3 separate regions of the Homo sapiens genome follow, and all the other regions are linked to region 1. The links come from fine-mapping of genetic effects on gene expression. A gene starts in region 1. Each other region holds a variant in brackets. All regions are shown on one strand. Distances are from middle to middle.

Region 1 (11,079 bases):
TTTGTTTTGTATCTGTATTGTTTTTCTGTTTAGCCAAGTAATTCATACTCATTGCAAAAATTGTAACATTAAATATGAATATAAATAGTAAATTTTTAATTATTAGATTTCAGACTTTTTAAAAGAAAATCATTAGAGGATAGGCCTGATTATGTGTAGATATAACAGAGAACACTTTTTCAACGGTGCTAAAATCCATTTTTCAAAATCATGCAAGATATCCATGGGCAGCAAGTAATTATCACTCTTCAACAAAAAGAAAAATATAAAAAGACAAATATGTAATAAGTAAGTCTGCTTGTTCCATAGTCTACTCTTCCTTCATGCCAACGACAGGAGCAATACTGACTGAATAAAGCCAATGTTCTAATAAACTCTTCAGATTTTATTCTGCCAAATACCATTCATAATGAAGTAAGGTACTCTATTTGTGTTTTTGAGAAAATAAAAGCTAACCCTTTGTTGTTTTTATTTGCAGATCACATCTGCTTGAGTTTTGAGGGAATTATTTTTTTCAGTTACCACTAAGAAAATACACAAAATAAATGACCATCTACTAAAATGGAATAAGACATACAGGAAAATGAAAAGGATAAATATCAAAACATAGGTATCCTAGCTAATGTTGGACATTTCTGGGGCTTTCTTTGTACCAAGAAATAGAAAAAGTTAGGTAATAGCAAACCTCTAAGGAAAATAATAATTCATAGTCAATATTATCATGAATGCAACAAGAGAAAAGGAATATTAAAACAATAGTCTGAGGGAGGTGAACATAACTGCAAAAAGAAAATGGCTTTATTTAGTCACTACAGTTGATTCAAGTAAATTGAAGAAAATTGCAGATATAGTCATTCATTCATTCAACATATATATCCAAGAAATAATATCCATACTCTCTTCCAACTGGGGCATCATTAGGTCTATATTTTGAGTTTTATGAGCTCAAAATATATTTAAACAAAATCACATCAAACAGCCTCATGTCTTGAAATATGCATTAAATACATGCCACACTTTTCAGAAAAGACATTGGAAATAGTCAACTATACTTGTATATCAAAGTAATTTCATGCACTATAGATCTGAAGCAAAAATAACATATAAAAAAAGAATTATCTCTCCAGATCAGAGCATAAAGATTGTATCTTTTGAATTTTGATTCTACATTTAAACTAGTGCTATAAACACTAATTAGCAAATACTGTTTTAAAGACAGTATTTACATATACCATGAAATGTTCTGCTGAATTTTCTCCTTTTGATTGTATGTTCAAAGAAGCACCATTCAAGATGATTATTGTGTGTACTTAAGTGGTTTAAAGGATCAGTATGTGACCAATAGTTTTTTCCCAAATGGCTTGCACTTGCAGTCGTAAAAATATGTAGATTCTCTTTTTCACAATCTATACTGACTTGGTTGGAATGTGTCTGTCTGACAGATTCATGTGTCTGTATCTGTGGTTTTACCACAATACCATAACACAATTGAATTCCATAAAATTTATAAAATCCTACTCTTTCCAAGTTACTCTGTGGGGCTACGTGGCAGGAGTTCATCATACCTCCACAGTGCAATGCTCACAAATGAATGGGGGAAGAGACCAAGCTAATACAAATCACAGGGAGAGAAGCAAACCAAGCTAGCTGCTCCTACCTGGGAAGAGTGGATGCCTGTATCAATCAAGATTCCTTGTTGCAAGAAATAGATGCTAACTTTAACTGATTAAGCAAAGTAAAGCGTGCGTGTGTGTGTGTGTGTATGTGTGTGTGTGTGTGTGTGTGTGTGTGTGTGTGTGTGTATGACTCATTTGTTGGGCAGTCTGGAAAACCAATCTGGAAGCTAAGCTTTCAGAAACTGGCCTGACCAGAAAACTAACTGCTGCCACTACTACCACCACCCCCAGCAGTTCCACTTCTGCCTCAGGAACTCAATCCTGTTCATGAAGCTGTTCCTGAAGGTCAGACACCCCAACAATACCCCAGGAAGTAAAATGAATTGTGGAAAGAGCCTTTTCCCCCACATTGCTCATTTCTGAGTCACGTGAGGCTCACTGGTAATGTCTAGATCACATGACTATGCCCTGGTTAGCAAAAAGGCTCCACCTGTGGAGGTGGGTGGGGCCCATCAGAAGGATGATGCCCCAGACTTGGCAGAGATATGGTTTGGATTTGTGTCCCTGCCCAAATCTCATATCGAATTGTAATCCCCAGTGTTGGAGGACGGGCCTGGTGGGAGGTGATTGAATCATGGGGGCGGAGTTCCCCCTTGCTGGTCTCACGACAGTGAGTGAGATGAGATCTGGTTACTTAAAAGTGTGCAGCACCTCCCCATCCTCTCTCTTCCTCCTGCTCCAGCCATCTAAGAGAAGCCTGCTTCCCCTGTCCCCATGAATGTAAGTTTCCTGAGGCCTCCCTAGCCATGCTTCCTGTTGAGCCTGCGGAACAGTGGGCCAATTAAAACTCTTTTCTTTATAGATTACCCAGTCTCAGGCATTTCTTTATAGCAGTACAAGAATGGGCTAATATGGTGCTCAAAGGGAGATAAGAAACCAAAACCATGACAAAGGCTTACTCAGCTTCAGAATAAGCTCATTCATTCAACTTCATTAAGTGGCTACCGTTGCTGGGCCCAGTTGCTTTCATTTTATTCCCATATATGACACTGTATTGTCATCCTTTATATGCCCATCTCAGCAATTCAGCCCTGTCACCATTACCTCCCATTGATTTAAAAGTTTCTCAAAGGCTGGAACATTTAACTGGCACATTTGCCACAAACTCAACAAATATTTATGAATGAATAAATGAATGATAAAGGTATAAAATATTGCATAAAAGGGTACAAGAAAGGCAGGAAAGTACACCAGAGAAGATGTGGCATTCTAGCTTATCCTCAAAGAAAAAGAAAGAAAGGAAGAGAAGAGCGCTCTAGCCAAAGGGAACCATATAAGCAGAGGCCTGGGAGAAGGGAAGTAGTGGGCATTTTGAAGACGTTAGCACTTGAATTGCTTGGCATCTAGCAACGGTTCTTCATCTCATGGAGAGAAGAGGCCAAGGCTTGTCACCAACCCTACTCAACTGTACTGGAATACAGGAGAGTGGGGTGGCAAGCTTGACACTGGTGACTTCTCAGGTAATTCTGAGGAGTATTCCTGGGTAAGAAACATTATTTATAAAGTGTATAGGGAGGAAGAAGAGATAGTGAGGAAGAGAGGAACTAGAAAGGAAAGTTGTGAAGAAGTTTATTTTGGAGGTACTCCTATCCCCTTTGTGCTCTCACTTCTCTACTTCATTGGCCTCACTACATTGCCCTTATTCCTGTATCCTGCTTGCAAAGGCCCCTGCTGATAGGGCAGTTACAGCAATTCTCCTGAGAGGGGCCTCCTTAGTTGCCCTTTCATTTAGTTACTTTTTATTGGCATACATTTGAGAGGCCACCACAGGCAAGCCAGTGTTCTCGCTACAGATGCCCAGATGAAGTCATCCCATCCTCAAGGATTTCACAATCTATAGCACTTGCATTTTAATATATAAGTATATACATCATACACCTTTAAGAACTAAAAGAATTGCCAGTGGCACCAAAATAGGGAGCTATCTCAAAGCAAATATTCTTGTCCTAAATTCTTAAAACACCTCCACTTAAAAGTCTGTCCATTCTAAAATTGTTCCTGCCGACTTCCAATTTCCTACATGTTGAAATATGTAATATTCGAACAGTAAATTGCAGCTGGATATGCTAAATTTGTCTATAGGGATCCATAGTTTTCAGAAGAGACTTTTTTAAAGAAGAAGAGATGATGGAGAAAAGAGTACCTGAGTAATGGGGGAGAGAATTCCAGGCAACTCTCTTACCAGAAAACGAAACTAATTTCTCCCTAAAGAGGCAGAACTCCCCCATTCCATCGCACTGCAAGCATTTTGTGAAGGGCATTGGTACAGCTGACATACTGCAGCACAGTTCAAAAGGAACAAATGCACATGACTCCCACATATGAAACAAGAGTAGCCCCGACCTTGCTGACCAAAGGCTCCTGGAGGGGAAAAGACATCAGAAGAAAGAGGAGAAAGTAAGGGGAAGATCGATTGGCTCTGCAAAACTGCAGCCTCAGCTCAGCTGTGGTTTCACCCAGGCCAGCACACTGCTGGTCGGTGCTGGACTGAATAGGTCATTTCATTTTTTCAGCTGCCTTTGGTTGTACTGACATAACTGGGCCCCTACCCACCGCTCTACCGCATCTCTATCTACTCCACTCATATACTTTATGCTCTAATAACACTTAACCGCTATCGTGGCTTTCCTGTTCCCCACCCCCCACACGCCGTCTCATTTTCATCTGCTGCTTCTCCCTCTTACACATCCTTCATGCTGGACTCAAGAGCGATTTTGTCCAGGAAGCCCTCCCTGCCTCCTTTTTGTCGGTGCTGTCATAGCTTCCCGGGTATGTCCTCAGTGAGTCATTCAACTTCACCATCCTCTAAGCCCTTGAAGTCCAAACCCTTGCTTACCCATCTTTGAATCCTCAAGACAGGGTGGTGACTGGCGGAGAATAGGTGTTCAGTATTTGTTGAACTGAATGGAATGCATCCTATCTGCATACTTAACATCTTGGGCACAGAATGTAGAGAGAACTAAAGAGGGTTCCTGTCCTCCCCAGACAGACTTGACAGTCAGAACCCCAAAGTATAGAGAAGTTAAAATGAACTACGGCAGTAGCCCAGAAAAGGAAAACATGTGTCTGAGGGCAAGAAAAGAATTCATCAAAACGGTAGTGTGTGAGGGCTGGGTGCCTGTAATCCCAGCACTTTGGGAGGCCGAGGCAGGCGGATCGCTTGATCTCAGGAGTTCGAGACCAGCCTGGCCAACATGGTGAAACCCCTTCTCTACAAAAAATACAAAAATTAGCCCGGTGTGGTGGGGCTTGCCTGTGGTCCCAGCTACTGGACAGGCTGAGGTGGGAGGATTACTGGAGCTCAGGAGGTGGAGGCTGCAGTGAGCCAAGATCACGTCACTGCGCTCCAGCCTGGGCGACAGAGGGAGACCCTGTCGCAAAAAATAAAAAATAAAAAGCAGCATCAGAAGAGTCTTAGGACTGAACCTTGGAAAAGCTCATGTTATGTGACTCCATGAAGAATTTTTACTGTACGGCCCAGTAGAGCATGAGCTGGGTGGGGGCGGGGGTGTGTGTGGGAGTGTCGGGGGAGGTGAGGGAGTATCAGTTCTTCACCTTAACATCCCATTCTGAAGCACAGGACAGCCCCTTGTCAGAGACACACATGCATTTATCATTTCTGTATAACTGACTCAATATACAGCTACAGAGCTAATTTCACGCTGTTTATCTTGTAACATGGATTCTGTCTATGCTTCCCAAGTAATATTTTCATTTCCATTTTAAAATTCAGAGTTTAGAAAAATGCCTTCAAATACCGTTAGGAGAACCATTCAAATCAGGTGCCCAAAACTAGATGGCACATTGATTCATCTATGGCTGGATGGTTAACTAAGTAGTGCAAGAAATATGAGCTGTTTCAGAACGCAGACGTTTGTTAGAGAACAGGAACTTCTGCTCTCCGTCCTGGAGATTCCAACGTTTGGCCCGATTCTTTGTGAAAACAGACCAGGGCTCCTTCTATGAGAAGAGTAGAGGAGAGGAATGAAGGACAGGAAGAGGACGGAGTTGGGAGGAATGGAGGAAAAGGCATTATGTTAGATAGGGAGAAATCTAGGCTCCAGCCTCAGCTGTGCTGCTAACTCGCTGTCTCTTGACCTCTCTGGGCATTAATTTCCTCAATCTACAAAATAAGGCAACTGGACTGAATTATCAATTCTAACCCTTCCACCTGTGATTCTAACCCATTCTGGTGCCTAATCAAGGAGGGGACAGATGGTCAACCAGGAAGACCCATAGGGGCCACAGAGGGCTGATGCGACCCTCCCAGGCTCTCCGTCTCTCTCACCCTCTCCTTCCCCCTCCCTCTCCCCCTCCCCCTCTCCCTCTCCCTCTCCCTCTCCCCTTTGGCATCACACGCCCCTGCGCGCCGCCTCCAGGAGCGAGCCGCTCGCGCCCGAGGCCACGTGACCCGAAGGCGCGAGGGCGCGCCTGAGCCGCCATGTCGGAGGCGCGTGGAGAGCCAGGGTCCGGGCCTGAGGCTGGCGCCCGATTCTTCTGCACTGCGGGTCGCGGCCTGGAGCCGTTCGTAATGCGAGAGGTGCGGGCGCGGCTGGCGGCCACGCAGGTGAGTTGGCCTCGCTGCGCGCCTGGGGAGGTGGGCGGCCCTGTCCCTGCCCTGTTGCCCACCCCAGTCGTGGACGCGGGAAAGCGTCGCTGGCGCCCCTCTCTGTTCCACGCGACGGTCGCCGACCCCCGAGGTTGACTGGCAGGCGCTTCCGCTCCGGCCGAGAGAAGCCACCATTCCTTTCTTTCCTTGTATAGCAAATCCAGTTCCTCACTTCTCAGGGCTCAAGTTTTTAAGAGAGGTGTTGAGGCAAGTTATTTCCTGGATTCTTTAAAGTAGTAAGTAGTGCCTGTAATTAGAATCTGGCCTGTCAGAGTTAGAACCCTTCGCTCTTTAAATGCAAACATAATCTCCAAGTTCAGTTACCTGACTTTTTGTTAGTTTCTTGACAGTGATTGTATTTGACTACATAGGATTGTTGTGAGAATTAAATTATATAGCGTATGCAAAGTACACTTTAAACACGCAGTAAATAGCAGCCAGAAAAATAATATACTCTTGCAGGCCTCATAGTTATCTGTTATTGATTTCTGTGAAATGAACAAGGTTTTAAGCATCGGTTTAGGTTTTAGAATGTTGAAAACTGGTTTCTTGAAAGTAGGGGATGAAGGTATAATAGAAAAGGTATCTTGATGGGGTGTATGGGACACTGTGAGTGATGTACTCTTGGAAAAGGAGAGCTTCCTAAATGAAATTAACCCCTCCACCCTGGCAGCTCCTACAGTGTGGGAAGCCCACAAAAGGAGTTTCTGCAGTGAAAGGTTGGAGTCGTGAAGAATTATGTCAGTTTTGTTAGACTACCTGCCACTTGTGTTTTGGGTCACAGAATTTAATAGAGTATTGAATGTAGCTAATCTTAAAAAGCATCAATATATAATAACTACTGACATTTATTGAACATTTAATATGTGTCAGGCACATGTTCTTAGATCTTTACCCTATATTTATTTGCGTACTTTTCACAACAGCCCTATAAGGTAGGTGTTCCACATTTAACAGATGAGAAAAATGAAGCACAGGTAAGTCCGAGAATTTATTCAAGTCATGCAACTAGAAAATCGCAAAGATGGGATTCAAACCCGAGCTGGGAAATCAAGAATGAGTATATAATCATGTTCAAACCAGGCCCACTATATGACCATGACATAGGGGTGCGCTGGCTTGTTTTTTTAAATGCTAACTTAGAGTGCTTGGTATGAAAGAGAGAGAGAGCTTGGCCCAATTAATATGTAGGATTATTAGAAAAAGGAAAGACTCTCTGCTTGTTCTCCATCTTCTCTAAAGACAAATGAAATGGGGAAAACTTTATTACCAGGAAGAAAATTCAATTAAATACAGGGAAAACTTTTTGACAGTGGGAGTAATTAAATGCCAGTAGATTTGGGAATTTCCATATTCTGCTCTTGTATGTTTGAAAGATAGATAGGTCTGGAAATGGGATCTGAACAAATAATCTCTGAAATTCCACCCAAGTTGCTCTGATACAAAGTGAACTCTCAAAGTTAAGGCAATCCTGAAATAACAGTGATGACAACTAACATTTATTAAACACTTAAAATGTTAGACAAGTTATGTGCATGTTATGATTTAATCCTCAAAAGACTCCTATCTGATAGACTTTTACCTCCATATTTTACCAAAAAAAGAGAAAATTGGGACTTGTCTCTGAGTCTCTCTAGCTTTAAAGCCCATGTGCTTTACCACTAGGCTAAATTACCATGGGAATCTTCCCTGGAACATTGGATGTAGTTTATTTCTGTAACACCACGGTAGAGTACGTATGGTCTTTAGAATCAAAAGACCTGTGTGCAGATCTTATATATTCCTTTAGTGGATTTGTAACTTTGGGCAAATTACTCAAATTTCTGAGCCTCAATTTTCTTGGATGTAAAATAGAGATGATAGCTACTTTAAAGGATTACTGCAGTCCCTGAAATAAAGATAGCACAGGTAGCATGCTGCCTAACAAATAGTTGGTGCTCAATTTTAGTTCCCATACAATGAGTTGTACAGGAATACTTAAAACATTCTTTCAATGATAAGAGAGTGTTAGAAACTTTGGATCGCATCAAGGAAATTAACACTCTAAAATGTAAATTTACAAAACAGATTAATTCAAGAATGATTGTTTAAGAAAGTAATCACTTCATTTTAATGTGTTTTTCCAATTTTCATGAACATAAGAATCACTGAGGAAGCTTGTTGAAAATGAGTATTTCTGGGTGCCAGCCCCAAAAGGTTTTCTTTTAGTAGGGTGGCTGATAAGCCCAGGTGCTACCATTTTAACATGAAAACATGCTCCCCTCTCAGAGAACTCCCAACACACAGTTTGCAGTGGAAAATTTCCTGTGTATTCTTTTTAGCTTTTTATCATGGAGAATTTCAAAAATATACAAAAGTAAACAAAATAGTATGCCGAATCCAGCCTGGTATAGTGGCTCATGCCTGTAATCCCAGCACTTTGGGAGGCCAAGCCGGGCAGATTACCTGAGGTCAGGAGTTCGAGACCAGCCTGGACAACATGGTGAAACCCCGTCTCTACTAAAAATACAAAAATCCAGGTGTGGTGGCGTACACCTGTAGTCCCGGCTGTTCGGGAGGCTGAGGCACGAGAATTGCTTGAACCTTGGAGGCGGAGGTTGCAGTGAGCCAAGATCGCGCCACTGCACTCCAGCCTGGGTGACAGAGTGAGACTCCATCTCAAAAAAAAAAAAAAAAATAGTATACTGAGTCTCTATGGTGTAGTTTAACATGTTCCTCTATCCTCTGTATTTCCTGTAAGTTGGAATTCTGTAAGTTTTATCTAGAACTTGGTCAGATTCAGGTTTGATGTTTTTTCTCCCCTCTCGTTGTATGGCAAATTTCTTCATAAGTCCCTGGATGATGTTAAATATTTAATTTACATATCTACAAACACATATCACTTAGACTACTTTGAAGAAAGTAATATATTGAGAAAAATTAAGCTTTACTTCATAATGATGTTTAATGTATTATTAAGTACTGCTATTTATTGTAAGACTAGTAGTAGGATCAGTTATTTTAAGATAAAATTGAATGTTGTAGAGATATCTCTAATGTCAGTTCACCAGAAGAGTCCTGTCAGTTGATTCATTGATCTTTATAAACTCACATATCAAACACTATTAACACAGGTCCTGAATAGGCCACATAAATTTTTGTTTTTTAATGGTGGCATCACAGTCGAGGGTAATAGGGTAGAATTAAGCAGGAAGTCAAGTTATTCCATAGTTATTTTCATTTAATGGAATAATTGCATAAGGTTGCCTTAAAGATTTTCTGCATTCCCTTTAGATTGAATGCCTCTTTTTTTTTTTTTTTTTTTTTTTTTTGACATAGTGTTACTCTGTCGCCCAGGCTGGAGTGCAGTGGCGCAATCTTGGCTCACTGCAACCTCCGCCTCCTGGGTTCAAGCGATTCTCCTGCCTCAGCCTCCCAAGTAGCTGGGATTACAGGTGCCCAGCTAATTTTTGTATCTATAGTACAGACAGGGTTTCTGCTAAACATGTTGGCCAGGCTGGTCTTGAACTCCTGATTTCAAGTGATCCACCCGCCTTGGCCTCTCAAAGTGCTGGGATTACAGGCATGAGCCACCATGCCCAGCTGAATGCCCTTTTTACAAATTAAGTGAAACATATTTTTGAATTCCTTCTTCTAAAATAAACCAAAACAAACTCAAACAACACCTTAACCCATCACGTAGCACTTTCAAATTAATTCTGTAACTAAATGGCATCTGTAGAATTAGGAGACCTTTGGTACCTCCCTATATCATGATGTGTTTTTGCATAGATTTAAACTTTTTAAAAAAATCGTGACAGGATCAGGCTCTGTCACTCAGGCTAGGGAACAGTGGCGTGATCACAGATCACTGCAACCTTGATTTCCCCGGCTCAAGCAATCCTCCCACCTTACCCTTCTGAGTAGCCTCTTGGACTACAGGCATATGCCACTGTGCCCAGCTCATTTACTTTTTGTACCAACAGGGTCTCACCATGTTGTCCAGGCTGATCTCAAACTCCTGGGCTCAAGCAGTCCTCCCGCTTTGGCCTCCCAAAGCACTGGAATTATAGGCATGAGCTACCACATTCAGCCTAGATTTGAACTTTTAATCTTTGTGTTAAATTTGAATCCATGAATTTTAAAAGAAAGGAAAAATGCTGTTTAGATATGCTAGCAGATAATAGAGCTGTTATTAATCAAGGCTGTTACTTCATCTTCGGGAGTGTTATACATAAAACCAGCTGTTTTTAGATACTTGGTTATGATTTCATTCTAGATAGAAAAAAACAGATTGTATATATAAATAAATTTTCAGGTAAGAAACATGAGAATGAAATATTCCAAATGCCTTATTTCTCTGAGTGTTGTATTAAATATGAACAGTTACAAGCAGTAAAGAAAAAGAGAATTAGTAGCTTCAGCAGTTTTTGAAGTCATAAGCACCAAAATTCATTCTCCCTACTATTTTAAGGTATCATACCTATCTTCACAAAGAGTGAACTGTTTAAGTGCATTCACAGATAGGATTATTTGATTCTCACAGTGAGTACTATTTTACAATCTATTAAACTACAGTAAGTCCTCATTTAATGTCATCCGTAGGTTCCTGGAAACTGTGACTTCAAGCAAAAGGATGTATAATTAAATCATTTTTACCATAGGCTAATTGAAATAAACAAGAGTTCCTATAGCATATTTCTGGTCACAAAAATTTCACAAACTTCTAAATAGGTTATTTAGAACACTTCTGATAGTAAACGCTGAAATAACACTTCTAATGTTAAACATTGAAATAAATGTAATCTATACATA
Region 2 (11,079 bases), 37 kb after region 1:
TACTCACCACCATGCCTGGCTAATTTTCTTTTTTAAAAAAATAGAGATGGGGTCTCACTGTATTGCCCAGGTTGGTCTTAAATGATCCTCCCAGCTCAGCCTCCCGGAGTGCTGGGATTACAGGTGTGAGCCACCCCATACCTGGCCACTTTTTTTGTTTTTTTTTGAGACAGACTCTCACTCTGTCGCCAGGCTGGAGTGCAGTGGCGCAATTTCGGCTCACTGCAACCTCCGCCTCCTGGGTTCAAGCAATTCTCCCGCTTCAGCCTCCTGAGTAGCTGGGACTACAGGCGCATGCTACCACGCCCAGCTAATTTTTGTATGGGGTTTCACCATGTTGGCCAGGATGGTCTCAATCTCTTGACCTCATGATCCACCTGCCTTGGCCTCCCAAAGTGCTGGGATTACAGGCGTGAACCACCGTACCCGGCCTTCTTTTTAAAATATACACAGAACAGATGAACTGCAAACTATTTGTGTTGAAGATGACTGAATGCAAAAAAAATGCTTCTGCATAACAGTACACTTTCTTTGCTTGTCCATCAGTTGGGTTTTAAAGTGTAAGCCTTCAAAGAATTACTCTGTAAATCAGCCAAAGTGTCCTAGGGTGGTGCTATAAACTTTACCAAAAAAAAGTTGCCTAATTTTGATGGCATTTTATTCAGAATATACTGGAAATCTATAATCAAAGGATTCAACAAATGAAGTGCCAAAATACATTAGCTTTTGAATTTTTTGGTGAATTACAGTTGTTAAAGCTGGCAGCAGGAAGACATTGATCATCTTTCCCTAAAAACACGAAGAAATGAACAAATATTGAAAGCTCAACAATGCACAAGACTTAATTATGAAATTCTATAAATATTCTTTGGATATGGTATGGAAAGAATCTCCTGATGACTTTCCTTATTGTAATTGGATAAATTTGTAGTCTAGAATGGAATGGAATGAAATTGTGAAGGCCTTAATTTTGTATCATCTAAATTTGGTAAAACAATTAAAAGAATAATAGAGATAATTTGAGTTTTGTAAACATATTTGTCAAAGGCACTGTCAATGGAGGGACTGTGAACTGGAAGGCTGAAATATTTACCCTTTCCATATGAAAAAATAGAACTGAAAGTATATTTCATTTACTAGAACTTGTTCAGATATTAGCACTGTAGGCAAATTATTTTTTCTCAAAAAAAAGTCTTTTATTAAACTTAAAAATTTCATTTTGCACAGATACGTTTTCAGGGCCACCATAATAAACCAATTTATTGGATAATAAATATTTCAAATATTTCAAAGCATATAATTTTCATATAAAATAAAGAGCATAGTTATTTCTAGCATTCTCTTCTCAGAAATGTTCATTTGGACTATAAACTGTATGGTGACCCAATCCAGATGTCAGACTACATTTTGCGTGTTTAAGACTAATGTTTATGGACTTCTTGATTAAGATGACAGATCAAAATTTCATTGAAAGCTTTACGCCCTCTTGTACTTACTGAAATGAGAAAAAGAATAGTAATCATCAAAGAAAACAAATTCAGCAACCAAACGAGAGAAGGTCATAATCTAATGCAATAAACCTCAAAATATATTTTGGCCACAATAAAATGTTATAGAGCATTTGAAAATAGAATAGTGGTTATTTACAAGGTTCTGAGATGCTATTTACAAAGTTACCAAAGCAAAGTGTAACCCAAAAATATTATGCCTAACCAAAACATCATCTTAAGGACAAACATTTTGAAATATGAAAAAGTTCCGACAACATTTCACACTAAGTCCTTTGGGGAAAAGTATTTAATCCAGGCATTAAGAGATTAATTGGCTGAGAAATGGAGAAAATCAAGGCAAAATGATTAGTGATAAGGATGAAATTAATTTAACTGTAGAACTAAGTTTAAACAATTATGGGAATTACTGTTAGGAGACAGAATATGAATATTATAAACCTGGACAATAAACAGAAAGAACAAGGAACAAAAATAGGAAGAAGGATATGTTCAGTTTTATAAAAGTGCTCAATGAACCTGGTCTTTAGTTTAAATATATGCATGAAAAGACATCTTGAAGGCCCATAAATCCCTTTGGAAGAAAGTATCTTGGGGCCATAGTCCTGAGTTTTAGGAAATTTTTACCCATTTTTCTCCTGGAAGTAGGAAAAATAGGGCAGTTTTTTTCTTCAAAACAACTGGTATTTTAAAACTAAATTTTTTTTTCATGTTCTTGAATCATCCTGCAGAGATGTAAAAAGATGATTTTTACTTGTTTTGAGCTATGTTTCTATTTCAGAATCTTAGCTGATTAGTTACAAGCAAATTTTTTGTTCACAAGCAGTATTTAAAGCATCTAATAATTTAAAAGATTTTACTGTATGTTGAATCGTATCGGTCAGGTGCTCATGGTTCTAGGAGTACCTGCATCTAAACCTACGGAGATGGGGACAACAATCTGTTTTACAAAGACCTTTCAGTTGATTCTAATACGCACTAAGTTGTAGTTTCCAGATGATACTGATGCTACTGCTATGGGGACCACACTTTGAGAACCACTGCTAGAGGAAAGGAGAGCAGGAGAGAGGCCCACCTGGAAGTAGTTGCCCTACCTCAACCTTGGATGCCCAAGAATGAGGGAGAAGGGGATACTACTGTGTTCTGCAAAGCTTTTTTGAAGGATGGCGCACTGGTTTCCACCTGGCTGTCATCTCCCATTTACATCAGAGAGGGACATTATAAATAATGACCACAAAGCAGCTAACGGTTACTGAATGCTCACTTTGTGCCAGGCCGTGTTCTAAATGTCTTCCATATATTAACCTCTTTTATTGACTTCTGAGGTACATAATCTTATTCCATTTTACAGATGAAGAAACTGAAGCAGTAATTTCCCAAAGTCCCACAGTTAGTGAGCAGCAGAGCCAAATGCAAGCTGTCTGACTCCAGAGCTTATGCTCTCAACCACATCAAGAAAAGCTTTGATTATTTTATGCTCTATTGGAAGATGACACTGCTTAGTTCTGGAGATTTTTTTTAAAAATTATTCTCTTCCATCTATATGAAGTTTATGTATTCAACTTCTAAATTTATTTAAAGCACTTTAGCATATTATATAATATAGAGCAGCAAAGTTCCCAATAAAAATGGAGACCCAGAAGAAAAAAATCATTGTTTCTAAACCTGGACATAATGGGCAGCTAACTCATACGTAGGTACTGTGTGTGTAGTGTGAGGCAAAAGAAAGACTTGGGATTAAATTCAAAAGTAAATTACTACATGCTTCCTCATAAATAAAACATTTGAGAACTATGGTTGCCTTCGTTGTCTATTTATTGTCTTTAGTCATTTTGTAAATGGATGTGTACTATATCAACACCCTAAAACCATGAGGTTAAAACATAACTTGGAAAAAAGGAATTCCTGTCTCAGCTTAAAAGAATATTATCCTTCTTTTTTTCGAACAATCTACTCTTCTTCTATTAACCCCACATAAGGGTTAGAACTAGGAGAGATCTAGCAAGTAGTCATTAGACTTTCCGAGATTACAAAGCACTTTTTGTTGCTAAATTTCCTACCAACAGAAACTTTTGATATTTAGTGAAGATTATTTAAATTTCATTACATTTCTGCAAAATTAGGTACTATTCAAAATGAAAATTGGGACATCTGTCTTATGAGTATTTAACTGAATTTAGGAGATGGATGAGAAGTAAAATAAGTAAAAAGTGGAAAGTACATCTAGAAGATGTGGATGTTAGGGTAGAGTGTACTGTGTTACTTTCTGATAACGTAACTTCTGAGAAGAAAACATTAAGATAAAGCAATTTAGAATTAATCAGACACAATAATTTTTAGTGATAATCATTGTGTTGATTATTGATTATGTAGCCTTTTCTCTAGTCTTAGGACTTAATAGATATTCTTAACCTTCCAAATTCTCTTTTAAAAATACAATGATAGCTATGGATCCTCTCCCTCAAAAACAAGTAGATCTAAACGTACAGTTTTAAAATGGGAAATGAAAGTTGTAGAATATAATTTTGTGGAAGATTTTTCTAGGCAATTTAGTGGAGCTAGCAGCTTTCTATACAAGCTATATATTTAGAGAATTGAGTTTTCTGGCTAATGTAAAATTCTGCTTAACTTACATTTTATTGTATCTGAAAAACCAATTTTCAACGAACAGAATACAATAACTATCATTTATCATTAGTGATTGTGAAAGCATTTTGGGATCTTGTAATTACTTTAAAACAATATTAGCAACCCTAAATGTTAATCTGTTACGCAAAAATAATCCTGTGTACTTCAATTTTCTCATTATTTAAGTTGTAAATATTTGACCCTACTGTAATAGGATTCTCTGATTTCTATATTTCAGAATTGCCATTGCCTTCAGAAAGTGTTGATATTATTATTTCTGACATTCCATTTGGGAAAAAGTTTAAGTTAGGAAAAGACATCAAAAGCATTCTACAAGAAATGGAAAGGTAAGTTGTTGAATTTATTTTCATAATTTTTTTAGCTACTGGGCATTTAACCGAAATACATCATAGCTCTTCAGTTAAGGTCTGATTGCTTTTTAGCAATTTCCCAGAGTTTTTGTAGCTTAATTTTCTAAGGTTTTAAGTCAGAAGTTTATAATTGAAATAAATGTTATCCATATCATCTTACACTATAAATTTTATTCAGAAAAATATTAATTTTCTATTATGTACTGAGATTTGAATGTATGAAATAGTGACCTATATTTCAGTCAGTGGTCTGAAGCAAAATTTTACATATTTGCTTCCATCCCTCACAAAAAAAAAAAAAAACCTGCCTTCTCTGTGTTAATCCCCCACACTTAACAGATGAGAATCTGGGGCACAGAAAGATTAACTTTCTTATGATCACTCTGCTACTAAACAACAGAACAGAATTCTGTTAAATAAGGAACCTTCCATAACATAGAATGGGCAACACCTTATTATTTATTGTTGTCTTTGTCCATTTTCTGTTGCTATGAAGGAATACTGGAGGCTAGAGAATTTGTAAAGAAAAGAGGTTTACTTGGCTCATGATTCTGCAGTCTGTAAAAGAAGCACAGTGCCAGCATCTATCTGCTCAGTTTGTGATGAGGGCCCCAGGCTGCTTCTAGTCATGGCAGAAGGCAAGCCCGGTGTGCAGAGATCACATGGCAGGAGAGGAAGCAAGAGGGAGAAGGGGGAGGTGCCAGGCTCTTTTTAACAACCAGCTTTCCCTGGAACTAATAGAGTGAGAACTCAATTATCACCCCTCACAGGGAGGGCATTAATCTATTCATGAGATATCTACCCACATAATCCAAATACTTCCCATTAGGCCCCATCTCCAACACTGGGGATCAAATTTCAACATGAGGTATAGGGGGACAAACATCCAAACTATAGCAGCTCTGAAATGAAAATGTGAAAGTATTCATCTTATGGTTTCTAATGACCTAAGGGAATATAATTCAGTGGAAGCATTCCTTTGAGAGATTGAAACAATGAGTCATGGATATGCATTTTTCTAATGGTTTAAATTGGTGAAGAAGAGAACATAGAATGCATACAGTTATGAATGGACATGAATATAAGAGGTCAGTTGATACTA[A/C]ATTGTCTAGCTGGGAATTTGATAACACACATTTCAAGAGCCTGCTATGTAAATAATGGGTCACCAATTTAAAATATGAGCCATGTGTTTTAGATGGAGAAAAATCAGGGTCAAGTCTAACATTCTATAAGGAAAATTAAATCTTGACACTTAGTCTAAGCTCAACTAAAAGTCATCTCACTGCATTTTGGGAGCTGAGTGTCCCATGCTTCTTTAGGGATTATCTTATTTCTAAGCAACTTTCCCTGCTACCCAGTTGCCTAACTCTTGAAATATTACCTGAGACCTCTCCTTCTGGACAGCACCTATAATTCAGACATTTCATGAGCACCTGTACTCCCTGCTGCCCAATATCACATTCACCTTGAGCAGATTTGGCAACCCTGACTTCATATAAAAATCATTTCAGGAGCTTTTAAAAAATACTGATCCCTGCTATCCACCCCTCCCCACGAAGGCGCTAACTTAATTTATCTGGTGGAGGACTCAAGCATTGGTAGTTCTTAAACACTCCCAAGGTGATGCTGTAGTGCAGCCAGAGTTAATGACTGCAGTCTTTGAACCTAACTAGATAATCTGCATCTATACCTTTAACCAATTCATGGTGAGATACTAATGTGTGAGCAACGATTTACATTTAACCTAGAAGCTTCCAGAGAGATGGTGGCTTACTCTAACTGAAAATCTAATGCTGCATATTATAGCACCTCTACAAGTCAGTGGAGGGCAGTATTATGAGTAGACAGTTCTTTCAGCCTAGTAAATTATACCAGCCTGACTTTCTCTAGGATGGGTTTGGTTTTTATTCCAGGTGATTGATTGAAAATGAGACAGTAATAGATGTGACAGCCCTCACATTGTCACATTGTGATATTTAAATACTTAAGAATCAGGAAAATGCATATTCCTGACTTCCTGCAAAACTAAAGTGCCTCAGTGGGACCAGTTTAAAGTGTATGTATTTGGATATAAGGGACTTTTCCTTCTGTGACCAAGCTTCCTTGCCACCTGTCCCCAACCTTTATGTCTGACTTTTGTTTTTGTTTTTTTTATGGTTTGAAGTTTTATACAGGCAGTGTGGCATAATATAGTGGTGAAGTATAGGCTTTGGAGACAGACTACCTGAGTTCCACTCTTGGCTCTATTACTTAATAGTTCTTCAGTCACAGGCATATTGCTTAACCACTTGCCTATCTTTAATACCCACTTAATGGCATTGTTCTGAGTCAGTGGATTTAAAGCTCTTACAACAGTGCTGGCCACCTAGAACTTACTCAGTATCTGTTATCACTTACCTGATTTTTTAGTGTATACCACTGAAAATCCTTTTGGGAAGTGTGTGAGGATATATTTAAATATATCGGAGTACACATAATTTTTATCCCAATGGTTTACTGATAGTTTAAGGCCCTAGATAGAAAATGGAAGGGATAGGAAATTGTGTTCATGAAAATACAACAAACCTGTTCATAACAGGCAGTGGAAATAGTACTGTATGTACTACAGAGCTGGACTCTTCGAGAAAGGACATGCAATCAGAATTAAAGATTGTCAGATAAATGATTACTCTGGTGGCATGAGCTATGCATTCTCAGCTCAATTATTTCCTCCTTTAATGTATTAAAGGATTATGGGTACAGAGCATTGTCAGGAATTCAGAGAAGTACATTTGAGTTTTCTCCTCAAATGTAACTGTGCAAATACATGAGCAAAATTAAAAATTCACCTTGCACCGCTTGAAGGAAGAAGGCATTGTGTGCCAAAGAGGCTTGAGATGGTTTCAGGAAGAAGCCAGATTTCAGTGAAATTTGGAAGTGAAGACAGAATTGAAAAGGAGACCACATCATGTTTATATGTACAGATGTTTATTAAGTATTTCTTGAGTGAGCAGTACAGCAGGAGGTGTGTTCATGGAACAATGAGTATACCAGACTGCCTGGAGCAAAGGATTTATAGTAGGTGGTTAAGACTTAATGTGTTCCATGGACAAATAATTTAAGATTATTTGTACCATCTACTCCTAGTTTTTCAGGTTCACATACGAAAGGGAAATCTCTTATGCTGTTTGATACAGACTTCCCCCAACTTACTGACTGCAGAGTTTTTTCTTAAGAAATAGTAATATTGTATTCTTATTATTATCATCACTGATACACTAGTGTTCAAAGGAATACAATTTGGTAAACATTGCTTTATAATTCTGAATAGCTTTCATAGTAAGAAATTATGTGTTTCTGGGCACAGTAGCTCATACCTGTAGTCTCAGCAACTCAAGATGCTGGGGTGGAAGGATCACTTGAGGCCAGGAATTCAAGACTAGCCCGGACAACATAGCAAGAACTCATCTCTAAATAAATAAAAAATTTAAAAATTAGCCAGGTGTGGTGGCATGCACCTTCAGTCCCACTACTTGGAAGGCTAAAGTAGGAGGATCGCTTGAGCCCAGGAGTTGGAGGCTGCAGTGGGCTGCGATCAAGCTACCTGGGTGACAGAATGAGACCCCATCTCTAAAAAGAAAAGAAAAGAAATTATGTGTATATGAACTAGGTGACACCAGTAGCTTGAGGTATGATCAAGCTGCCCAGGTGACGGAGTGACCCCATCTCTAAAAAAATAAAAAAAAAGAAAAGAAAAGAAATTATGTGCGTATGATCATGGAAAGATGCCTAGAAGGACATTTATGGAAAATGTTCATCTCAGAGTAGCAGGATTTCAGGTGATTTTCACTTTCTCTCCATTATTTGAACAAAATTACAATAAATGGTGACTGTCCTGTTAGGCATCTTGTCATGTACATATGCACAAAAGGATACATGTTTACTACTCTACATAAATAGGATTGTCCTTAATGTACTGTAGCATTGCTTTTTTTCTACTCAACAATGTCATGAATCTCCTTTCTGATCAGTTGTTACAATATACATTATAATTTTCAGTGGTTGCCACATTATATGTATGTACCATTATGCAACCAGTGCTTATGGATGAATATTTAGATAATCCCCAATTTTTTATTTTAAAAAAGAACTATTCTTTGAACATCCTTGCATGGTTTTTCAAACTTAACTATATGACCAAGCACCACAGTCACAGTATCACAGTTTCTTCATCTGCAAAATGACAGTGTTATAGAGCATACTTAGAAAGATAATTCTGAAGTTTAAATGATACATAATACAGAGCATATCCAACTGCCTGGCACATATTAAGTACTCAATAAATATTAGCTATATCACCATTATTATCACTGTTATTCTACTACTACTACTATTACATCTTCTTAGGATAATTTCCTAGAAGTGAGATTGCTGGGTCAAAGGTTATGTACATTTCATATTTTTGATACATGATTGCTAAACTGTTGCCCCAAAAAGTTACTTCAGTTTCTGTCTTCAAGAGTACTCATTTTCCCATCCACTTCTTCCTTGCTCAGTAGAAGAGGCTTCCCTCTTCCTGCAAGGGTTTATCCTCTCAGTTCCTTCCTCCTCAAGGATCACACTCTGCCCACTTCTCATTTTTATCTTCTGCCTACTCATCTGCCGGTTCTTTCCAGGAGATTCATTTATCCCTTCCCCAGACACGTTTGGAAGTCTTTGCATCTCCCATGCACTTGCATGTACTTGGCCCCGGGGATTACAGCAGTGAATACGACAGGCAAGGTCTCTGACCATTCATTGTGAGAAGACAGATGGTTAATCAGTAAACAAACTGGATAATGTCAGATCATGACTGGTACTGTGATGGACATAAAACAAAATGTTTTGCTTTAGAGTGAGAGAAAAGTAGTGGCTACCCTAGCTAGGTAGTCAGGAAAGGCCTCTCTGGGAAAGTGATATTTGACTGTGGGGCGTGAGTGATAAGAATGAGTGATAAACGCAGGGTGAACAGCAATTCCAAATGTCCTAAGGTGAGAAGCAGCTTGGTGAGTTTGAGCAGCTGAAGGAAGGTCAGTAAGCAAAGAAAGCAGGCAGTGACATCAAAAAGGTAGGTAAGGGTCAGATTGTGTAGGAGCCTTGGATGCCAGAGTAAGGGGGTTAGAATGTATTTGAAGTACAGTGCAAGCAACTGAGGAGTTAGCAAAGAATTTACATTTGTCTTCTGTGTGGAAACGGAAGACAGAGTGGGAGGGGCGACAAGAATGGAAACAAGACCTGTCTACCAGATTGTTGCTGTGGTCCAGGCAAACTATGAATGAAGTAGACAAATATGTGATACAATTTAGAGACAGAATTGTCTAGCTTTGCTGATGGATTAGACTAGGGAAAGCTACCTAAGCTTCTTAGATTTTTGCTGGGCATGAGGCAGATTCCCCTTAACTCTTGGTCCTTTAGCTGCCACTGTTTCTTTTCCTGTACAGCTGAACTTCTTGAAATAATGGCCTACACTTGACACCTCTGCTTCCTCAGTTTCCAGCCCCACTCTACCCTGGCAGACGAGCATCTGCTCCTGCCTTCAGCTAGGATTGCTGTCCCTGGGTTCACTGATTTCTCATAATCCTGATCACCTGTTAGTCCTATAGCATTTGTTATTTTACATATATATATAATTTATATATGTATATATGTGTATATATACATATAATTTATATGTATATAAATTATGTATTTATATGTAAATATATAATATATATTATATATATATTTTTACATATGTATGTGTGTAAAAAATAATTTTATTTTAAAGACAGGGTCTCTCTCTGTTGCCCAGACTAGAGTGCAGTGGTGCAATCTCAGCTCACTGCAACCTCTGCCCCCTGGGCTCAAGCAGTCCTCCCATCCCAGCCTCCCAAGTACCTGGGATTACAGGCACACGCCACCACACCTGGCTGATTTTTGTATTTTTTTGGTAGAGACATGTTTTGCCATGTTGCCCAGGCTGGTCTCAAACTCCTGTGCTCAAGCGATCCTCCCACCTGAGCCTCCCAAAATGTTGGGATTACAGGTGTGAGCCACCATGCCGGCCCTATAGCATTTGACACTGTTGAAACTGTTTCTTTCTTGAAACTGTACTTCTTTGGCTTCCTTGACATAACTGTTGTCCAGATTTTCTCTGAGGATGTCTACTTCATGGGTCTTCTCCTCCGTCACTTTTTAAATGTGAAATCTCTGCTCCCTGTCCCATTTTCTCTTCTCAACCTGTACTGCCACCCCAGGTGATCCCATCCACCATTATGGCTTTAGCTACCATTTACTGTATCTTTACCTCAAGGCCTGGTCTTTTCCATTACTCCAGGCTGTGTATCCAGCTCTCTGGTGGAATCCGCACTTATGTGTTCCTTAGGTACATCAGCACGTTCCAAGCTGAACTCCTTACTCCCCTCCTCCCTCCACTTCCCACCCGCTGTGACTCACCCACCCACTGAGCTGCTTTCAGAGCTGCCTCCTCTCCACTTCCTCCCGTCTTTGCTGCTTTTTCTGCTTCCAGCACCCTCCCTTGCTGCAGCCGCTTGCCGTCGCTTTGCCTGGCTCAT
Region 3 (11,079 bases), 48 kb after region 1:
TTAAATGGATAAAATTAAATTTCAAATTAAAAACATGAACCATTTTAAATGAAGTGGGATTGTTTGTTGTCTAGAAAGGAGAAAGATAGCAATTACCATTTTTTTTTTGTCACAGAGTGCTTCATGTTGGCGGAACCATTGTATTGTTGCTTAGTGAAGATCACCACAGGCGCCTTACAGATTGTAAAGAGAGCAACATCCCTTTCAATTCCAAGGACAGTCACACAGATGAACCTGGAATTAAAAAGTGCTTGAATCCTGAAGAAAAAACTGGTGCATTCAAGACAGCGTCAACTTCATTCGAAGCCAGTAACCACAAATTCTTAGACAGAATGTCACCATTTGGCTCCTTGGTACCAGTGGAATGCTACAAAGTTAGCCTTGGAAAGACAGATGCGTTCATATGTAAATATAAGAAGTCGCACTCTTCTGGACTGTAGCAGGCTTGCTGCCATCAGCCGGGTTCAGGCCCTTGTAAGTTAGCTGTACAGCAGAAGTTTGCTGTCTCTAGGATTCATATAGCACCCACAGAGCTCCAAGTAACCAAATTCCCCCAAAGACAGGAGGTGTGGCTGATGGGTACACATGCTTGGTAAGAGTTTCTGCTTTATATTCTAAAGTACTTAATGTTTTTGAGAAAAAAGTTATCGAATATTTTTTAGACTTAAGTTTTATCTTCTGTCAGAATGTGAAAAGTTCTGCCCAGTTTCTGAGCAAAAACTTCAATTTCAAAATAAAGGTTTTCAGGGGTTCACTTAAGTGTATCACAATCAACACCAGACGGGATATTTTAACTATCAGATTTTCGGAAATGTAAAAACCTTTATGTGTAACTTCTTTTGATATTAAACTTGATTTTTGAGCCTGTAATTTTCTTCTCCATTGGAATGAAAATAATTTGTATTTGCAATACATTTTATATGTTTATTATGTAAACCAACAGTGAGAATAATAACTGAATTAAGCCAGTATCCTTCAAAACATGATGGAAAATGAAATTTGCTTTTTTTCTAAAAGCATTCATACACTGTCACCTCGCCCTTATTTATATAGAAAGTCAGTTTGTTGCTTATGTTCACTACCTGAGAAAAAGAAACAGTAAGTTTGAGGAGAATATATGCTCTGGTTTAATGTTTTTCAATAGTGTGATACAATTGTTCAACTTATTGGCAGCTTTAGTGGTATTTGAACAACTTTGCTATGTTTGGGTAATTTTCCACCCTGTGAATCAGCTCCCCAAAGCAGAAGTCATAAAATCTGTTTTCCAGCCAGGGTGTGGAAACCTGGGCCCCTGGTATCAGGTCCACCCATGTGCAAGCTATGGCATTTGTGCCCAGTGGCAACACAAAGCGATCTTCACCAGAACATTCCTCTCCTGAGGTTTCAGCACTGCTCTTGGCTACGTAGCCACCGCTAAGCTTCTCTCTCTGGCCTTCCTAGGAAATTCTAAGAGCCACCTACTAATCTTGAATACATTTCATTTTTGCTAAAACTAAGTAAATGTGGTTGTGTTGTTAACAGCTGGGACTCTGATAATGGAGACTGATACTCTGAGGGGTTTCAAGCAAGAGGCCCCCAGTAATGTGAATTCGTTACTCGGTATCTGGCCTACTTGGGTTAAAGGCAGTGAGAATACAGCTAGTGTTATAGAAAGTGTATGGCATGTGATGGTGAAGCAGTTCATAATGCCTGTGCTTACCTGATGCTCTGGGAAACACCAAAAACCTGAGGAATACGAGCCCTATGAGGCGGGCTATCTGCTTTTGGTAGAACTTGACAACTCAAAGAAAAAGCAAGATTTCTGTAGTCCTTATTCCTTGGGTTAAAGCAGGGGTCTCAGCCAGCGGCAATTTTTGGTCCTCAGAAGACATATGGCAATGTCTGCAGACATTTTTGATTACCACAACTTGAAGGAGGAGAGAGATACTCCTGGCATATAGTGGATACTGCGGATAAAGGATGAGAGATTAGGTTAACAAGGTAATGGGTGGCAGGTAGAGGTGGTATATTAGATGAGATGGGGCCTTGAAGACTATTTTAAGGGCTTTAGCTTTTACTCAAAACCACTGAAAGAGTTTTGAATAGGTGATGTCACCTAACATATGTTTTAGGATACTGTAGCTGCTATATTGCAAATTGATTGTAGGAAGAGAAGGGTGAAAGTAAAGAGATCAGCTGGGAGTTTTTTGCAATGATTCAGGCAAAAGAAAATGGTAGCTTGCCCCAGGGTGGTAACAGTCGTGTTGGTAGGAGGCACATGGATTCTGGATGTATTTCGAAAGTAGAACCAGAAGGATGTACTGATGTGTTAGATGTGAGGTATGATAAATGGAGAGGAGACAGGAATGACTGAAGACTTTTAGCCAAGAACTTGGAACAGTAGAGTTTTCATCAACTAAGAGAGGAAAGGCTGCAGAGGCTGCAGGTTTGGTGAGAAATATCAGAAATTCTGTTTTGGACTTGCTAGTCTAGACACTCTAATTTAGACTAGTCTAGACAGTCTAAACTAGCAGATCTTGTTTAGACTTGCTTGCTAGACAGTTTTAGACTTGCTAATTTTGAAATATGCATTAAACAAAGTGGAGATGTTGATTAGGCAATTGAATATGTGAGTCTGCACTTTAAGAAAAAGGTCTGCTCTGGAGATACATTATGGGAATTTTCAGTATTTAGGTGGCATGAAACTGGATGGGATCACCAAAGGATTGGGAATAGGAGAATAAGACCAGGGCTGAGCCCTGAATTCCTCCCATACTGAGAGGTTGGCAGGAGAAGAGGAAACTCCAAAGAAAACTGAGATGGAACAACCAGTGAAATAGAAAGAAAACCTAGTGTGGTTGCCTGGAAGACATGAATAAAGGGTATAGAGGAGGAGTATTTAACCCTATAAATGCTGCTAACTGACCAAGTAAGATAACTGGAAATTGACCATTGGCTTTAGCAGTGAGGGAGTCATTCATGACCTTGACCATGGGGCTTTTGGTGGAATGGAAGGGGAGCAAAACCAGACTGCAGTGAGCTTAAGAAAAAATAGGAAAAGAGCTGGAGATAGTGAGCATAGACAGTTCTTACAACTAGTTTTGCAGAACAGGTGAGCAAAGAAATAGGAGTAGTAGATTGGTAAAGAGTGTGAAAGCAAGAGAAAGATTTGTTGGGAGAAGTAGCAGCTTTTTTTTTATGTTAAAGAGAATTCCAGGAAAGACGAAAAGATGATGAAATAGGAAAAAAGGGCTAAGTGCTAGAGCGACGTCCTTGAATAAGGGGATAAAATGCAGTCCACAATTGGAGGAATTAGCTTTAGACAGGAGCATGATAATTTGTTCACGATTACGGGTAGGAAGACAGCATACAGACATTTCAGCTATAGTATGATAAATATGCTCCTAAAAATTTTTTCATTCTCAAATTTATGCACTAAAAATAACAATTTATGAAAAAGAAACATAAATTCTGGTTGGGGAAAACCATTGCAAACATCCAATTTTGCAACCTGAACACTAACAGAAACACCAATCTTAGTGAAAATATTGGCACAGTTAAGACATTATATTCCTAATAAATATGTAAGTAAATAAGGACTTCACCTTTCCAAGAAAAGGGCAATGTCACCTTGATAGACTAGGCATAAAGAAGGGTAAGGAGATGCTGAGTTACACAACAGGCACTGTCTGCCTGGCCAAGGCAGAACCTGCGGCCAAGATGAACCAGAAAAAGCCTGTGATGATGGACGTCATATAAAGAGCCTTATTCCGCACCTTGTTCGTTCAACTCATTCCATTGGCATCCTTCACGTTCAGCTGCTCCTGTCTGGTGACACAAAGCATTAATATGCTAAAAAGAAAAAATCATGTATGAACCAACCCAATTTCCACATGAGAGTGACGTCATCTCCTTACTTAGCAATATTCGATTTAATGCCTATTACAG[A/G]AATACGTGTTGTAAGAGAACAGATTATAAGTGGGAGCAGATGCTGGAAGGTGGGCGGATGTGGTGGTGGTAGACTGTGGAAATTCTCTTTCAACTACTTCAACTTTCTCAGTGACAAACCATCCGGTAACTTACCCAGTGTCTGAGTCTATAGCTGGAATAGCTACCCTCAGCAATTGCAGAATACCCATAATGGCTTTCTGATCCATGGAGTAAGGGTATAGATTTTTGGAAGGGCTGATGTCACACTCCTTAGGTTCCCCTTCTTACCGAAATAAACAAAGGCAATACCATATATTTGTAGGAGCTGCAGATGTTAGTGCCAACACTAAGAAAGGCACGGATGTTGATGGAACTCTGTGGCATCTGAAGGCAGCCTACATGAGCTTTGGATTTGCTGCTCTGACTCATTTACTGTTAATTGAGGCCTGGGCTAAGAGATGGCTCTCTACTTGCACCAGCCCTACTGTAAGCAGCTCCCTAATGCCCTTAGAGACCCAGGAGATCTGATGGTGCTCAGAGCAACTGGGGCAGACCTGGAGGGTGTGTGAAGCCTGCAGCAAATCCCAGTAGAGGAAGCACAGCTGCAGCATCTTAGCTTTTGGAGCAAAGCCAAGCTCTCCTATGCAAGTTAATTATTCTCCTTTTGGAAATAACTCTTGACTTGCTATTGGGGCTTGCTTCTGAGGGCTTGACCATGGGACACTAGGTGACCATATGACCTAAGCTGCCCATCTTGAAGTAATGACACGCCAAGCCAAAAGTCGCATGGACCCAACCCAGCAGCACATCCTCATCAGATGGGAGCGGTATATATCAGCATTGAGTTCCACATGGCTGACGGCACTCATGAGCTGCAGGGGCAGTCAGTGCTTTTTCCTCTCAGTGTGCTTCCTGCCACACTCACCCCTCCCTCATAGCCATGGTCTCATGAGGAGTCTCCAGTGAGCAGTTCACCAAGGAGAAAAGAAGTCAAATATGGCTTACAGATGACTCTGCAAGTTTTGCTGGCACCTGTGGGAATTTAATTGCAGCCCCACTCAGGGTGAAAGACAGGAAAGAAAGTGGGGAAGTTCTCCTCCCAGGGAGCAGAACTTGGAGTAGTCCACATTATACACTTTTCCTGGAAGGAGAGATGGCCTGAGAGGCAGATCCTCAACATGTCATCCTCATGAGTATCAGTTTAGATGGATGGTCAGGAACATGAAATAAGGTCTCGGGAAGAGGAATGTGGATGGACATGTTATACTAGACCCCAATATAGGTGAATATTTTTGTCCTATTGGAATGGTCTCAAGAGGCCATACTGTGTAGGAGGTTCTAAATATGTAGTTGGAAGATTGCCTGCCCAGTGCCCTACCCTTTCCCCAGCCATCCTGGTGCTTGCTCAGTGGCCCCATAGACAATGGTTGCAGAGACAGACAGAAACAATGCACTGGCCCAACAAGGACTTCTCGCCAAGATGTGGCCACTGCCACTGCTGACTAATTTCCAGCAGCAGTGACCAACCCTGAGAGACTTAATATAACACTACTGCTGTAGCTTGAGTTTGTCCTCCTGGAAGCTCACATTGAAATTTGATTCCCAACGTGATGGTTTGGGGAAGTTGGACCTAGTAGGGGTATTTGGGTCATGTCGGTAGATATCCCTCATGAATGAATCAATGCCCTCTTGAGGGAGCTAGTTCATTCTCACTCTCCCAGGACTAAATTAGTTACCAGTGATTGGCTGTTGTAAAAGAAGTTCTGCTTCCTAGACATTCTCTTGCTCTCTTTGTACCTACCCACTCACTTTTCTGCTTCTCTGCCATATTTTGAGCCAGCCCATGGCCCTCACCAGAAACTGACCAGATGTGGCACTATGCTTTTGAACTTCTCAGCCCGCAGAATCATGGGCTCAATAAACAACTTTTCTTTATCAACTACCCAGTCTCAAGTATTCTATTATAGCAACACTAAATGGACTAAAACAACTACAAACAGGAGGGGAATTATATTGAAGACCCTCCCCCTTGTGAAGAGGGCAATAATTTGTCCTCACTGGAATAACTATTTACTCTGTATTTGGATTCTTTATGCCAACAACACCTTCCATGAACTTAACAAATTGCCTTATTCACTATCATTCATTTCCATGTAACAGTGCTTCTCACTAAAGAGCTTATTTTACAGGGATGACAGTGAGACAAGAGACTGAGGCTCATGGGATTTCTTGTCTCACCATAAGGCCTTACGGCATGATGGAATGGCTTACTGAACACCCAGTTATTGTGCCAGCAGGAAGATAACTCCTTGAGAAGATGAGATGTCTCCATACAGGATACTCTGTGTGCTATGAACCAACAGCCAATAGATGGTGCTATTTCTCCCATAGTCAGAATAAAGAGCCCAAGAGCTGAAAGTGAGAGTGGTACCTGTTACTATATCACTCCTAATTACGCTATTAAAATGTTTGCATCTTATCACTAGAGTGTCTGGGCTCCCTGGCTTAGAGGTCTCAATGCCTCTTGTTCCAGATGGAAACCTTCAGTGCTGTCTGCTATTGCATAAAAAGTCAAGACATATTCCATACCATCCATTGGTCTCTCCATCTCATGGAAAGATCAGTTACGTTAGAACGAACGACCACACCACCACCACCAATACTGCCACCAGCCTGTGGGTCTCCTTTCTTACAGGGCAACCATGAGAAAGGAGCTTTCACTAGGGGAATGCATAAGCTTCTTGGTGCCAGACAGTCTGGATTTGGTCTGTCAGCTCTTTACAGGAATTGTCTAGAAAGCCAGCTGCCCTGCACGTGGGAAACTTGACGGACCTAGTGATCTTGGGGACACATGATATGTTACAGTCTCCCTGCCAGGGAGAGGCAAGGGGAAAACCACCAGTTGTATGGGAATCTGAGCTTGAATGTAGTCAGCCCCTTTTTCTGAGAAAAGAGGTGCCCCCAAATTCCCAGCTGCTCATTGTCCATTTAATCCACTCTGAGCACCCAGGGTCATTCGTGGAAACCCTCCTCCTTTCAAAATCATTCCCAAGAGAGGATTTCTTCTGTCAGCAAACACAACAAGAAACCATTGAATTAAGAGGTAAGACTGCCACCCAATTATTTTGGGTCCTTGATTCCACTGGACAGAAACACATAAACAGGTTGAATTATGTGGGCTGGAGTGTTTGTTCCTAGTAATCAGAGAGAGGTATGTCTAGAACCCAGTGTTAACCTAGGTTCTTACCAAGACCCGAGATGAGACGAAGGTTTTTTTGGAGATAATTTATTTTGGGAGCTGGGGACTGGAAGGAGTAAAAGAGAAATAGGGAAAAAGGTAATCCAAGGATGCACTGTTGAGCTGATCACCACTGTGAGAAGCTGGGATCTGATCCTGTAGGGCCCCTCTGAAGACCTGTATAGGATGCAACCCAGAATTGTCTGCTTAAGGAGCAAAAGAGGAGAATATCCACCAGCTCCTGTCTCCCATTGGTCAAGAGTAGGATGACTTTCAACTCCCTCCCAATTTAAGACTTCCATCGCATAGTTTAAACCCTAACTTACAGAATATCAGATGGAACTAGAGGAGGAATGGAAGCCACCCAGAAATCATGTTCTTGACATGGATGTGTTACCCTTGTCAGAAGGGGAGAGGATGAGCAGGTTTTTCTGTCAAGTATAATTGCATATTTTACATGCGAATATTGGTTGGTTGGAGGAAGTTTAAATATCAAATTAAGAACAGATATTGATGTTGGGCATCCAAAGGGTACATCAAAGTGGTGAATTATCGTATTTTCCAATGTTTGAGTCCCACCTCTCCAAGGCAGAAACCAGAACACCAGCTTTTCCGACCTATATTATAGGTAGAATGGGGGCCAGACACTGACATATGATAATTGGATTCAGATGTGAGCTATGCGGAGGAACCAGGCACCATGGAATCCACTTTCTGGGGGAGAGGCAGCAGAAGCATCTGGCCTCAGGGGCTAGCTGGGGTAGAGGACAGCATTCAGCGTTCAATATCCATGGTGCAAGCTATGGTGTGGATCCCCGGCAGGGGTGGCAGTGAATCTTTGAAACTACCATCTTGTTGTATGGTTTGGATGGTGTTCCTGGTTGTGTAGTCCCCTAGATTAATTTTCTGGCCCTATTGAGCATTCTAATTTTTTTTTAATGAATTCCTTTTCTGCCGAACAACCTAGAGTTATTCTGTTGATTGCAGCTGGGGGCGCTGTGCCACACACCAAGGTTACTGAAGCACTCTCCTGCCCTGCAGGCTCTGCACATCTCATTCTCAGTGGAGTCCCTCCAAATGTTTTGCATTTTTTCTGTTACCATATTTTCTAGTTGTCTATTTTATCAGTATTTGGCACCCCTCTCCAAAATCATTTTTAATGTTTTGGCCTCCCAAAGATTTTGAATAATACAGTCTTTGTCATCATCTGCCTAAGCCTTACATACATCTTTAGGAGAAAAGAAAAAACGTGTAGGGGTGGACTCTGTGACCAAAATGCAACAAACGATGGGTTAAAAAAAAAAAATTCATTTCTTGACTTGAAGTGAGTGACAGTGATGTAGATCGTAAGAGGTAGCAGTACTAATGATCTCGGTGTACTTTGCAGAATTAAATCATGATTTTAGTCTCTGCTAAAATATCTTTAATATTAAATGCATACAACTATAAAGTTTTTGAAAATTTATGAAAATTTGAGGATGTCAAATAAATGGAGTACTATTTTATAGCATTTTTTCCTCCTCCAGAATAGGGTACAGAGTGTGGCCCAGAAAAGAACAATTAATATTTTTTGAACTAAATTGAACTAGCTCCTGGTAGGAGAGAATAAATAAATGCCTGTAGATCTGAGAACAGTGAATCAAAGGGACACTCGGAAACCATTCAAGAAGCAGACAGCTGTCCAGGGAGACACCGACTTCCTGTGTAACCTAGAAAGCTAAGTCTCAGAGAAATGCAAATCAAAACCACAATGAGATACCATCTCACGCCAGTTAGAATGGCAATCATTAAAAAGTCAGGAAACAGATTCTGGAGAGGATGTGGAGAAATAGGAATGCTTTTACACTGTTGGTGGGAGTGTAAATTGGTTCATCCACTGTGGAAGTCAGTGTGGCGATTCCTGGAGGATCTAGAACTAGAATTACCATTTGACCCAGCAATCCCATTACTGGGTACATACCCAAAGGATTATAAATCATGCTACTATAAAGACACATGCACACATATGTTTATTGTGGCATTATTCACAATAGCAAAGACTTGGAACCAACCCAAATGTCCATCAATGATAGACTGGATTAAGAAAATGTGGCACATATACACCATGGAATACTATGCTGCCATAAAAAAGGATGAGTTCATGTCCTTTGCAGGGACATGGATGAAGCTGGAAACCATCATTCTCAGCAAACTGTCACAGGGACAGAAAACCAAACACCTCATGTTCTCAGAGATGAGAAATGAACAGTTAGATCACTTGGACACAGGGTGGGGAACATCACACACCGGGGCCTGTCGAGGGGTGGGGGGCTGGGGGAGGGATAGCATTAGGAGAATTACCTAATGCAAATGATGAGTTGATGGGTGCAGCAAACCAACATGGCACATGTATACCTACGTAACGAACCTGCACATTGTGCACATGTACCCTAGAACTTAAAGTATAATTAAAAAATAAAAAAGCTAAGTCTCAGGGATTCAAAATAAACTGAGGTTTGAGAAGAAATGCTCACTTAGATATTAAGTAAATGTGTCGGTTCAGAGAGCTATGCAAGAAAGCCCTTGGACTAAAATTAGGTGAGATGCAAAGTCTTAGAGAAATCTTGCTAATTAAGAAATCCAGGTGAGTTTTTTTAGTGCATGTTCATATTTTGCCATAGTGTTAGTAGCCTTTTCAAATCTTGTTATTTATTCATTTGTTCATTTGCTTCTTTATTTACTTAGCTACCAGGCAGTTAGTGAGTACTTGCTCCATGTCAGGTTCTGGGAATGCTCCTTGGTAAACTGGCCCTGCCTGAATGGCTGCTGTGACAGCTATCTGAAAGGGATGTGAGCAGGAGCAAGAGGATACCAGCCAGAAGTCCGGGCTTCTGAGATAGAGGAATATCCTTGACCTTTGGAAATGGAGGGATGAAACCACTCTCTGGAACACCTCGGCAGAGAGAAAAATGAGCTGAGTCGAGGAAAACATTTGAGAGAAAAATTATGGATTGTTGGAAATTTAAAGAAACAACTCAAAACGTGCATGAAGAGCTCAGCTTTTTATCTTAAATTCCATGAATTATGTTCAAGAGAGTCAGGAGATTTGAAGTGTAATTTTGCCATCTGAATGCCACAATCATTTAATATTGTCAGTTTTCATTAAGTTTCTTCAGTGAGAAACTGCCTGCTCGAGATGAAACAAATGACAGCAATTACTCCAGGGCCCTTCCTTACCCACCCCCAACCCTTACACATTATTTCTACCATTTTTTGGTCACCCTGCTAGCTGCCTTTTTGTGACTCTTGCCCTTGGTATCCTACACTTTGTGAGATTGACTTCACCTTGGAAGAATGGGCACATTAACCATATATTTTGCCAGATAGACCTAAACGCCCAGTACTGGCCTCTGGGTATTAACATGGAAACCAAGGACAATTCATTCACTGGGCCAAAGGTATTTTGCCTGTTTTTCTGTAAGCCAGATTTTATCACTCTTATGTTTGAAATCCTCCAATGACTTTCCATCTTACTCAGAATGAAACCCGAAGTCTTGGGTTTTATTGGAAAGGTGTTCAAAGGGTGCTGGATAGCCTGGTTTCCCTCTTACTTCATCTCAACACTCTCACTTTCATTCTACCTTTTGCTGACCCTGCCACATGCAAAGCTTGTTCCCATCCCAGGCCTCTGCACCTGCTATCTACCCTTCCTGGACATTCCTCAGGACACCTGCATTGCTCAGGCTCTCTGTGCAAATGTTTTCTTATCAGAGAGGCCAACGCCAGCTTCCCTAAACTGGCCATCCCCTCACCTTTAGCACTCTATTCTCCTAGCCACCTCATTTTTCGTTCATAGCACATATCACCACCACCTACTGCACAAGCCCTGTTTTATTACTGTCTGTCTCTCTGAGACAGACACAAAGGAAAAAAGAACAAATTATCTTTCCCTG

Which allele goes with the higher level. Positions count from the first base shown, and alleles are read on the strand shown. Sizes are in standard deviations (SD) of each study's normalised expression.
For the expression in tibial artery of the gene that starts at base 6,099 in region 1, allele A in region 2 goes with a lower level than allele C (small effect, 0.15 SD a copy in GTEx).
As copies of A replace G in region 3, the expression in unexposed skin of the gene that starts at base 6,099 in region 1 goes down (small effect, 0.25 SD a copy in GTEx).

The links. PIP is the estimated chance that this variant, and not a neighbour inherited with it, causes the effect. A credible set is the group of variants that fine-mapping cannot tell apart.
Region 2: its variant is the best candidate, but not a certain one, in a credible set for the expression of THUMPD2 in tibial artery (GTEx, PIP 0.54).
Region 3: its variant is the best candidate, but not a certain one, in a credible set for the expression of THUMPD2 in unexposed skin (GTEx, PIP 0.88).

Annotation. Positions count from the first base shown.
Region 1 is chr2:39,774,278-39,785,356 of GRCh38, reverse strand. It overlaps THUMPD2 (THUMP domain 2 tRNA and snRNA guanosine methyltransferase), which reads left to right and starts at 6,099. Exons shown (of 10, transcript NM_025264.5): 1 at 6,099-6,243. The coding sequence starts at 6,118.
Region 2 is chr2:39,737,774-39,748,852 of GRCh38, reverse strand. THUMPD2 (THUMP domain 2 tRNA and snRNA guanosine methyltransferase) reads left to right here. Exons shown (of 10, transcript NM_025264.5): 9 at 4,375-4,483. LOC124905994 (a long non-coding RNA gene) reads right to left here. Exons shown (of 3, transcript XR_007086294.1): 2 at 7,864-7,956. Among named protein-coding and RNA genes, the nearest start is that of THUMPD2, 36 kb to the left of the region's middle. The variant A/C (reference allele first, on the strand shown) is at 5,610.
Region 3 is chr2:39,726,096-39,737,174 of GRCh38, reverse strand. THUMPD2 (THUMP domain 2 tRNA and snRNA guanosine methyltransferase) reads left to right here. Exons shown (of 10, transcript NM_025264.5): 10 at 116-1,114. The coding sequence ends at 440. LOC124905994 (a long non-coding RNA gene) reads right to left here and starts at 180. Exons shown (of 3, transcript XR_007086294.1): 1 at 97-180. It also overlaps a transcript of TMEM178A not described here. The variant A/G (reference allele first, on the strand shown) is at 3,928.